3 linked regions of the Homo sapiens genome follow. The protein of the gene in region 3 purifies or fractionates together with the protein of the main gene of each other region. This does not show direct contact. Each region holds a gene or a part of one and is shown on either strand. Other genes may lie near its edges. The genes, in order: ASAH1, RCC2 and HTATIP2.

What was found.
Region 1: the proteins of HTATIP2 (region 3) and ASAH1 purify together in Homo sapiens (affinity purification with mass spectrometry; one large-scale study listed by BioGRID and IntAct). This does not show direct contact.
Region 2: the proteins of HTATIP2 (region 3) and RCC2 fractionate together in Homo sapiens (co-fractionation; one large-scale study listed by BioGRID). This does not show direct contact.

The regions. Positions count from the first base shown.
Region 1 is NC_000008.11:18,074,065-18,077,716, forward strand, and holds part of ASAH1 (acid ceramidase isoform a preproprotein), read right to left. Parts: intron 1,524-3,652; coding exon 1,477-1,523; intron 1-1,476. UniProt on the Homo sapiens protein: Lysosomal ceramidase that hydrolyzes sphingolipid ceramides into sphingosine and free fatty acids at acidic pH.
Region 2 is NC_000001.11:17,415,577-17,419,228, forward strand, and holds part of RCC2 (protein RCC2), read right to left. Parts: intron 1,071-3,652; coding exon 904-1,070; intron 1-903. UniProt on the Homo sapiens protein: Multifunctional protein that may affect its functions by regulating the activity of small GTPases, such as RAC1 and RALA. Required for normal progress through the cell cycle, both during interphase and during mitosis.
Region 3 is NC_000011.10:20,370,188-20,373,839, reverse strand, and holds part of HTATIP2 (protein HTATIP2), read right to left. Parts: intron 1-3,652. UniProt on the Homo sapiens protein: Represses translation by preventing reactivation of elongation factor eEF1A. May also inhibit nuclear import by competing with nuclear import substrates for binding to a subset of nuclear transport receptors.

The sequences.
Region 1 (3,652 bases), on a different chromosome or scaffold from region 3:
TTGCAGGGCATTCAATTTATAGACACATGTAAAGTGCACCTAAAAGGGAGTAGAAACGGCCTCAAACATGGAAGGCACCTCATTAAATGTTCAATGAATTGGGGCAGTGAGACCAACAGAGAGACATAATCAATCAGTAAGGCAGACATGTCACTGAAGGCCAGAATGATGCCAGTGATGACAGAAAGGAAGACTTTCAGACAGCAGGCCATTGAAGAAAGAGCTGGAATGAACACTGGCCCCAAACAACATCCAAACTGGTTACCTCTAAATTGCTTCCTGCCAAATACTGGCCTCTTTCTACATAAAGGCGAGTAAGTCAAAAGAACTTAGTTTATTACAGTTTCACGCTATCTGGGACAGAGGCTATTTAAAATACATCGTTTAGACAACAACAGTACAACGTAAGTAATTTGGAATGTTGCACGAACTGAAAATGTCATCTTGATATCACTAGATAGAGTTGTACTGTTTCCCCCTACAAACAGCAGGCTACTTTCAGCGAAAGGGCAGTGTAGGAGAAAAAGATCACCACCCCCTATACCTGTTCCTTCTTTTCTCTGTTCTGTACACTCTGAGGGGTCTGTGAGCTGTTATTATGGCTTTCTCACAGGCCCATTTAAACACTGAGGATTTGGAAAGACCAAAATCTAGACTAAAAATATTAATGTTAAACACACTGAATCATGACATTGGTCCTCCTCTTAGGTGTTCCAATCCTGTTTTGTCCTCGACAGCTTTGTTGTGCCAAGGTTTATTTTGAGAACGTTTCACATATGAGGGCCTATGCTTTTTTGTTACAATATAATTTGGTGGTTTATATCCAGGCACCATAGAGAATCACAGGTCATTTCAAATACAGCCCTTACATTTGTCAAAGATGAGAAAAACCCTTCATGGTAGACAGGAGAATTGAGTGGAGAATGAAAATCCTTTCCTTTTTTTTTTTGAGACAGAGTCTCACTCTGTCGCCCAGACTGGAGTGCAGTGGTGCGATCTCGGCTCACTGCAAGCTCCGCCTCCCGGGTTCACGCCATTCTCCTGCCTCAGCCTCCAGAGTAGCTGGGACTACAGGCGCCCGCCACCACGCCTGGCTAATTTTTTGTATTTTTAGTAGAGACGGGGTTTCACTGTTAGCCAGCATGGTCTCGATCTCCTGACCTTATGATTTACCCGCCTCGGCCTCCCAAAGTGCTGGGATTACAGGCGTGAGCCACCGCGTCTGGCTGAAAATCCTTTTCTTTCCGATGATTTTGATAGTCTAGCGACGGGCATTTGAATCGGAAGATATTTTCATATTTGTCCAAGATCTCAGCCAAATGCATAATAAACAAATCTGAGAAACAAACCTCTGTCTCGGAATGGGAAACATGACTTAAGATTTTATTCACTATCGTTCGTTTATGAGCAATTATTACATACAGAAAAAACTTCACAAAGGTCAAAGGGAGTTTTGATCATCTGATGTTTACTCACGTTGGTCCTGAAGGAGGATAGGTTGATTTTCTGCAGTCCTCTGTCCACTGAAAAGCAAAGAAAATTAAGTTTCAGAAAATAACAAATGCTTGCCAACGGAATAAGCAATTTCAAAAGTAGTTAATCTGTGAAGACAACATCAAGTCTGATATTGCTCTTTTATACGTTTCAATGCCTCTTAAAATAAGTCTTTTCTTTCCAAGAAAACTTCTAAAATCCTAAACCATTAAGTGGATTTTCAGTTTCAATTCAATTTGTAAAAGTGCTAGGTGTTATAATTTGGCTCTAATATTTCAAATATATTGAGTAACGAACAAATGTAACAAAGTAGATGGAAAATATTTATGTTAGAGAGGCTGACTTAGCACTAAAAGTAAATGACCTGATAGGATGTATTATCTGCACTTACCAGCCATGTGTGTTGCAACCTGTCCTGGGATTTGCCTCCCAAACCAGATTTTCAGGGCACACAGCACAGGGCCCTTCATCATCTTTCCATGGTAACTTACCATCCCAGCCTCATCTCCTGACACTCCCCTTAGTATTTATAGCCATACGCAGGCACTTCCTATCATCTCTCACCCTTCCATGCCTGTGTCTGTGCTATTCCCTCTTGCTAGAATGCCTTTTCCCCACCTGGTGAACTGCTGGTTCTAACTTCCAAGATTCAGTTCAAGCATTTTCTTTCTTGTGAAGTCTTCATCTATCTTCCATATGAAAATATTCATACCCTCCTTTCCTCCCACAGCATTTGTGCACACTCTCATCAACATGTTTATGACACTGCTTTATAATCATCTGTTTGCGTTCCTTGTCAATACCAGACTCTGCGCTCCTTGAGGTGAGGACGGCCCCCAACACTGACGTCACTGCCTGAGACAAGGAATGAACAGACTCTTTTAGGGGAAGTTGTCCAAGCTTAGTGGCAAAATGGAACCTTCTCCTAAACTTATCAAAAAAAGTCCACACAGATTTATGATTCTTTTGTTACTCATTCAACATATCAAGTGTCTTTATCTCCTTTCCTCTGGAGAACCAGTTCTGTGAAAGTAAAATAATTGTTTTAAAAAAGTACAAATCCAAAATAAGATAAAGTAGAGTAGGTAAGAAAACTCTTGGAACTGTAGCTTGAGCTCAGAAAACTCTTGGAACTGTAGCTTGAGCTCAGAAAACTCCTGGAACTGTAGCTTGAGCTCAGAAAACTCCTGGAACTGTAGCTTGAGCACAGAAAATGTATCTGCTGGACAGCTGTGTAAGAATGGAGGTCTAGCACCTTGTTTTAACTTTTGATAACATGGGGAATATATAAAGTAGGTTGACATTACCTGTGATTCAAACATTAGCTGTCAAATTTGCCTTACCACACTGTAAGTTTCTCACATATGTCTGGCTTTGTCTGGTAATTTTGCGTTGAATTCATTAAGAAACAATATCAAGTCTGTAGCAAAAGCTAATTTCCAAAGCCATTCGTGTTCAGTAATAGTGGCTGGGGGCAGCTCGTTTAGAAAAACTTCAGTCTCAACTGTGAACTCAAAGACTGCAAAACTTTACAGCTAGCAAGCTATCTAATGGCTCTGTCACAAGAGACATCAGGATATCCGGCCTCTATTTCTGATAATTCACAGAAATGATGACGGTTATATCCACAAGAGCAAATGAAGCTCATGGTTTATATTGCCGGTTCAATAACACATGTGAGATTCCAATATTTTCCACAAAATATCTGAAAAGGAATACTATAATAAATAACCATGAGCTTTAAACACCTCGCATGTTCACAAGTTTTGTGAATTTGCTCAACTCCGCCTTTTTCTACTCACAAATATTTTTACTACTGTCAATTTTTATAGATCTTAGCAGATTCCATTCCAGGTTATACTCAATCATTATTTTCTCAGCTTCTTCGAAAACATCCTCGCCTGTAGTTGTTTTATACAGATGATTCAGAGGCTAACTCTTCAGTCACTTCAAACTTGGCAATGATCATCTAATAAATATCAACAACTGATCAGTTATCGGTATGTTGACAGTCAAGAAAAATCACTCAAAAATCACATGCTTTGTTCTTTAATTGATATTGATGTTCTTCCCAAAGTCCAGGACAAGGGTTCTCAATGACATGTAAAATAATTTCATTTTCCCTGGACACAATACTTCTGCTACTACAATCGAATAC
Region 2 (3,652 bases), on a different chromosome or scaffold from region 3:
GCAGGTGCCTCTAATCCCAGCTACTCAGGAGGCTGAGGCAGGAGAATAGCTTGAAACAGGAAGACAGAGGTTGCAGTGAGTTGAGATCCCACCACTGCATTCCAGCCTGGGTGAAAAAGTGAAACTCCGCCTCAAATAAAAAAAAAAAAGATACACAAACAAAAGATTGCACTGCAGTTTATCTAAAGTGACCTTTAAAGAAACAACCTAGGCCAGGCGTGGTGGCTCACACCTGTAATCCCAGCACTTTGAGAGGCCGAGGTGGGCAGATCACCTGAGGTCAGGAGTTTGAGACCAGCCTGACCAACATGGAGAAACCCTGTCTCTACTGAAAATACAAAACTAGCCGGGGCATGGTGGCGCATGCCTGTAATCCCAGCTACTCGGGAGGCTGAGGCAGGAGAATTGCTTGAACCTGGGAGGTGGAAGCTGTGGTGAGCCGAGATCACGCCATTGCACTCCAGCCTGGGCAACAAGAGTGAAACTGTCTCCAAAAAAAAAAGGGGGGGGGGGCGGGGGGGACAACCTACTGATTAAAAACGACTCACATCCCCAGTATGGGGCACCATCTACTGACCTGGAAAGATGTCTGTGATGTTATGTTAGATAAAAGCCAAAAGCAGAAAGTGCTTACCTTAAGGTGCAGGTGAGGGCGGCAAAACATCTACGTGTTTAAGATGTGTCTATTTAAATCACGGGAGAAGTTAACATAGGAGGCAGTGACAGGGAACCCTGCCCTGGGACCAAGGACCCTTTGGCCAAGGTGCAAAGCCCTCTTGAAGAAGCAAGCAGATGTCTACCTGGGATCAGTTCCTAGCCAAAGCCAAGCGTCAGGAAACTTGAGCATAAACACCCCTTCCATCCTGGTGCGACTCTCAGGAAGTGAGAAAAGCCGAGCCTCACCGTGTGGTTAGCGCCACAGGCCACGTCTCGTACAACCACGTTTGGTACAGGCAGAATCTGTCCATCTTTCGTCTTCTCAATGAAGATGGCCACTCGCCGGGGAACTAGTTCACAGTCGTACTCTATCCGCTGTGCCCGGGCGATGAACTTCCCATCTGAGTTGTGTCCTGTAGAGACCACAGAGCCGGCCATCAGCAGCAGCACAAGCACAAGGGACGTGTCAGTGTGCTCACACGGACTCTGTAGTGAGCCCCGGCAGCACCCCAATCTGGCCCTTCTGGGCCTTAGACCAGCACACGTTGGTCAACAAAGGCAGCATTTCCAATCTTAGGCACAGCACAGTGAGTGGGTCAGTGAAATCAATTTTGTGAGCTAAGACCAGTTATTTTTTAAAAACGAATAGAACAGAATGACAAAGAATACTCTACACATAATAATGGCACCATGTTACAACAATTCCAGGTAAGGTATTATACGTTCAGATTGGGTTGCAAAAGAAAACTTATTTCTTACAATGGGTTGCAGTCAAAAAAGTTGAAGCTGCTGATCAAGGAATGGTCTATCAAGTAAGATCTCTACCCCACTGGAGGGACCACAAGGAGCCCCTAAAAGACCAAGAATAGACAGAAAAGCTCCATACACAATCCCAGGCCTCTGTTTTTATGAATTACCAGTAACCTAAACGTATGGTTACGGGTGGCTAAAGCCTGCAATTCCCACACTCCGAATGACCCAGGGACTGGTTCGCAAAGACCCAGCTCAGCACACCACACACCAGAAGCCCGGCTGCTCCAGTCCTGAGAACACGCCAGACACCCAAGCTCCTGCAGCCACCTGCAGCAGCAGGGCTGCTAAGTAGTTTATAGTTTTAAACTGCTCCTGTTCCCACACTGTGATCATCAGTTTGGTTGGGCACGGTGGGCCACGCCTGGAATCCCAGCACGTTGGGAGGCCGAAGTGGGTGGATCACCTGAAGTGAGGTGTTTGAGACCAGCCTGGCCAACACAGTGAAGGCCTGTCTCTACTTTAAAAAACAAAAACAAACAAACAAAGATTAGCTGGGCGTGGTGGTGGGTGCCTATAGTCCAGCTACTTGGGAAGGCTGAGGCAGAAGAATCGCTTGAACCTGGGAGGTGGAGGTTGCAGTGAGCAGAGATCATGCCACTGCACTCCAGCCTGGGCGACAGAACAAGTTTCTGTCTCCAAAAAAAAACAAACAAAAAAACTTGTTGTTATCAGTTTGTAAACTAGCCCCCGGCTTGTGGCTAATCCCCCTCCATACGGCACGCTGGTGTGCACCTCAGCCCTTATTGGTATGTGTGTTTTTGAGCACTGTGCTATTTAAATACAGTCAGCCCTCCATGGCCACAGGTTCAACCAACAGTGGTCCAAAAATATCTGGGGGGAGGAGGAAACAAGGAAAAAAAAAAGATAATACAAACAATACAAGTAAGACCATACAGTAGAACTACTTACATAACATTTACATCACATTAGGTACTGAAGTAATCTAGAGATGATTTTAAGTGTACAGGTTACATGCAAATACTATGCCATTTTATATAAGGTACTTGAGCATCTTAAGATCTTGGTATCCACAGGGGGTACTGGAAGCAATCCCCCAGGTTACCAAGGAGCAACTGCACCCTGGAATCACAACTACGCTACACACAATAAAACTCCTGGGCTTGTTTACAGGGCGCCTTATAACACTCATCTCATAAGCAGGTTCTATTTTTTTTTTTTTTTTTTTGAGACAGAGTCTCGCTCTGTCGCCCAGGCTGGAGTGCGGTGGCATGATCTCTGCTCACTATCACTGTCTTATGACAGCAGTTCTCTACTGTTGACATAATCCCTTCCAGTGGAACATCTGTCCGTTTAAAAGTCTGAGGGTCTTGGCCGGGCGCGGTGGCTCGCGCCTGTAATCCCAGCACTTTGGGAGGCTGAGGTCGGCGGATCACGAGGTCAAGAGATTGAGACCATCCTGGCCAACATGGTGAAACCCCGTCTCTACCAAAAATACAAAAATTAGCCAGGTGTGGTGGCGCACGCCTGTAGTCCCAGCTACTCAGGAGGCTGAGGCAGGAGAATCGCTTGAACCCGGGAGGCGGAGGGTGCAGTGACCCGAGATCGCGCCACTGCACTCCAGCCTGGTGACAGAGCAAGACTCCGTATCAAAAAAAACAATAAAAGTCTGAGGGTCCCCACTAAGAAATTCCCCCACCTTCTAGGCTACGATGAATGTAAGAGCATCACAGTAAATAGAATGCATTTCCGGATATGTCGCTACTTTTCTCACAAAAATGGTATTTTTAAACACTTGCACTCTTCCGGACAAGGTTTCAGCAAGGCAGTCAACAAATGATTAGAGTCCTTTTATTTGCTATCGACACAGTGGATACTGAACAGACACAACTCCCAGACAGGAGAGGAGGCACATTTGGTGACTGCTTTTTCCACCTCCTTTAAAGAGCTGCACACATCTGCTTTCTCCAGAAGTACAGGACAGAAGCTACTCCAGAAAACATCGAACAGCGGGCTTCCCTGTCCCTCTAGAGGGGTGACAGCTCTTTAAAATAAAGTTAAATGGCATGGCTGGGCACGGTGGCTCATGCCTGTAATCCCAACACTTTGGGAGGCCGAGGCGGGTAGATCACTTGAGATCAAGCGTTTGAGACCAGCCTGGTCAACATGGTGAAACCCCGTCTCTACTAAAAATACAAAAAAAAGTTAGCTGGGTGTGGCAGCG
Region 3 (3,652 bases):
GATTACCCTCAGAGCCATTCTCCAAATGGAGACTTTAGATGTGCTGAAAGTGTGCCAAGAGAAACAGCCCAAAACTACATAGAAAAATTCTAAGACACTAAATTTTTCTTCCACATCTGTTTCTTCCCCTCATGCCAGTTTATCAGAACTCTGATTTTAATGACAGGTTAGTTATTCACAACAAAATGACACAGTTGACTAGTGAAATAAATTCAGTTTTTTTGTTGTTGTTGTTTTAGCAAGATTGATTGGAAGGATTATTATAGTAGTCTGTTAAAATACTTTTTCTTTCATCCGTTTCTTTAAAAATAAGGGAAAGATTCAGCCAATCACAAGTCTCCTGACCGACGCTGTCTCTCTCACTTAATCCAGAGCCAGTAAAAGGATAATTTGATTAAACTGAGACCCTAATTTATTTGGCTTTAGTTCTGGATCAACCTCTCCTTAATAGAGTGCTGTCGTCTCCAATTGTTTGATGAAAATTAAAGTGACATAAATACCATGGGACTTTTTCAATCTGATTAGTCAGCGAAGGCACATCAATACCACCCCGGCCATCAGACTTTGGCGTCCTTCCTTTCACCCGCCTCGCTAACGACTGACAACCGCTCCTTGAAGGACGAGCACCCACGCTGCTGCAGAGACCCCCACACTTAGCCCATCATCCCTGCTCAATGGGGCCTGTTGACAAGGTGCCCATACCTTTCTCCATTGCTGTTCTCTGGACAAAGCTAAATATTGTTTTATTAGCAATCAATGGCTGTTAATCCAAAACGATTTCACAAATCCTCTGAGCCTTCAAGCTCATTATAAATACGCGTTTTTCCAAGCCCACTAAATTTTGAATTTCACTTCCGTCACCCTGATGGCGTGGCCTTTTAGCTGGTGAATGAAACTCAAAAGCAAAAGGGTCAACAGCTTTCAAAGACTTAAAAATCAAACTGAAGCATGGGTCCTGATGACTGACTAGGAGGTATCACACACCAATTTTCTCTGGAGTGAGGAAGATTCTATTTACAGATGAAAGGAGCGATCTCGAAAATCTTATTCATGCCCTTTATTGTTCTCCAATAGCTCGATTAAAAAAACAACAGAAAAACTAACTAAAGCAAGCTATTTCATATCTCAGAAACACAATTTTTAGAAAAACTGTACTTAGTTTCCCTAACCATGTGGACAGACATCTCTTCTGAGAGTATTAAGTCCACATGTCATTCTGTCTTTATGATTCCATAGCCAATGTGTCCTGCTCTAAGCTAGGAATCTGAGTCCCTTCTAGAAAAAGGAATTAATTAAATAAGTTCCCACTATAAAGTCCTTTCCCAGCACCCTCTCAAAAAGAATAAACACAGTATACTACACTCAGTAGAGATATCCTCATAGGCTCCACAACATCAAAGGCAGCAAATTCTCCAACGACTCTTAAGTCTTACTAAAATCCAAAGCTACTAAGTATTTCTTCTAATCTTCTTTACCAGTGCCTGAAAACTAAAAACAACATTCTGGCTTCAGAACAACTCATCCTAACAAGGTATAGTATTTCAGTGCTGACTGATAGGACAAGTTAGCACGTCTAAACGACTCAAGAAGGTCATGGGGTCAGGCACGGTGGTCTGTGGTCCCAGCTACTCAGGAGGCTGAAGCAGGAAGATCGCTTGATCCCAGGAATTTGAGTCTAGCCTTGGCAACACAGTGAGACCCTGTCTCTAAAAAATTAATTAATTTATAAAAAAGTAAATCATGGGGATCTTTTTCCAAGAAGGGTGGGTCTATCATTCTGTAAAGGTCCCATTCAGCCCTATTTCTGCTTCAGGTTCTTTCTCCTTCACTCCCTTTCAATCCAACCCTATAAATTAGACTAGAAAACAAAGATGCTGACAAACACCAAATGGTATAATCTGAGGCACCTTTTGTTTGTGTCCTGGAGGGCATCTCCATATTTGATGTTCAATGGTAGGGGAAAGATCTTGGTTAGAGAAGTTCTGGATAGATAAATAAAATCAAGCAGATACTGAGGATTCCTGGGTCAATCTATATGTTCTTGAAAAAGTTTTCCAATTGGATATTCTTTCTTCTGTGTTTCATAGAGTCAAAGAATTTTTCAGGCCGGGTGCGATGGCTCATGGTAATCCCAGCACTTTGGGAGGCCGAGGCAAGCAGATCACTTGAACCCAGGAGTTCAAGACCAGCCTGGGTGGGAAGCATGGCAAAACCCTGTCTCTACAAAAAAAAATACAAAAATTAGCCAGCCATGGTGGCGCATGCCTGTGGTCCCAGCTACTTGGGAGGCTGAGGTGGGAGGATTGCTTGAGCTGGGTAGGTGGAGGCTGCAGTGACCGAAATCGCACTCCTGCAGTGAGCCGAAATCACACAACTGCACTCCAGCCTGGGCGATGGAATGAGACTCTGTCTCAAAAAAACAGAAAAATGTTTAAGAATTTTGCAGTAGGAAGGTGGGTTCACTGGTCACCTCCTTCTGACAGACAAGGAGGTAGTGGCCTCCAAAAGCTAACCAGCAAACTCCAGGCTCCATAGCTACTTGGCAACCAAACAGGGCCTGTGATCTGGGTCCCTTGAACCAGCTAGGACCTCGCCACTTCACAAGCCCCCTCCTAGACATCAAATAAACAACAGAGATTAGAACAAGGGTGGGCAAACTTTTCCTGTAAAGGATCAGACAGTAACTATTTTTAGCTTTGCAGGCCTCTGTTGCAACTATATAGCTCTACCATTATGTTAATAGCACAAAAGCAGCCACAGATAATACATAAAGTAATAAGCATGGCTGTGTCCCAATACCACTTTATGTATAAAGACTAAAATTTGAAGTTTTTATATTTTCACATGGTATGACATTATTCTTTTGAATTTTTTAACCAGTTAAAAATATAGGCCGGGTGCGGTGGCTCACGCCTGTAATCCCAGCACTTTGGGAGGCCAAGACGGGCAGATCACGAGGTCAGGAGATCGAGACCATCCTGGCTAACACGGTAAAACCCCATCTCTACTAAAAATACAAAAAATTAGCTGGGCATGGTGGTGGGCACCTGTAGTCCCAGCTACTTGGGAGGCTGAGGCAGGAGAATGGCGTGAACCCAGGAGGCGGAGCTTGCAGTGAGCCGAGATTGCGCCACTGCACTCTAGCCTGGGCAACTGAGCGAGACTCCGTCTCAAAAAAAAAATATATACATAAAGACATTCTTAGCTCACAGGGTGTACAAAAACAGGTGGCAGGCTGTATTGCAAACCTTTGAATTAGAAGAGCAGATCATTAGAATCAGAAGCCATAAGGTTCTAATGAGATGGGCCATGAGATGCCTAATAAATGTCACAGTGGCCACACTAATCACATTAATGACATCATCCACTCAACAGAAAACAAGAACCTGGACTTCTGGAGCCTACTACGACCAGGTGAGGAAACAAATGAAAAGGTGAAACCACATCGAACCACCTTGAATTCACTAATCAAATCCCTCTTTTGATACAAATAAGGGGAAATGAACTATTCTCACTGGCATCTCTAAGTTTTTGTGCTTCACTCCAGGACAATACAGATCTGGTTTTCAAAGGCTATTTCAATCTTCACTAGCAAACAAGTTACTCACTAAAGCAAGGCAAAGGTTATCCAGGACCACAGTACCCAGAAAAC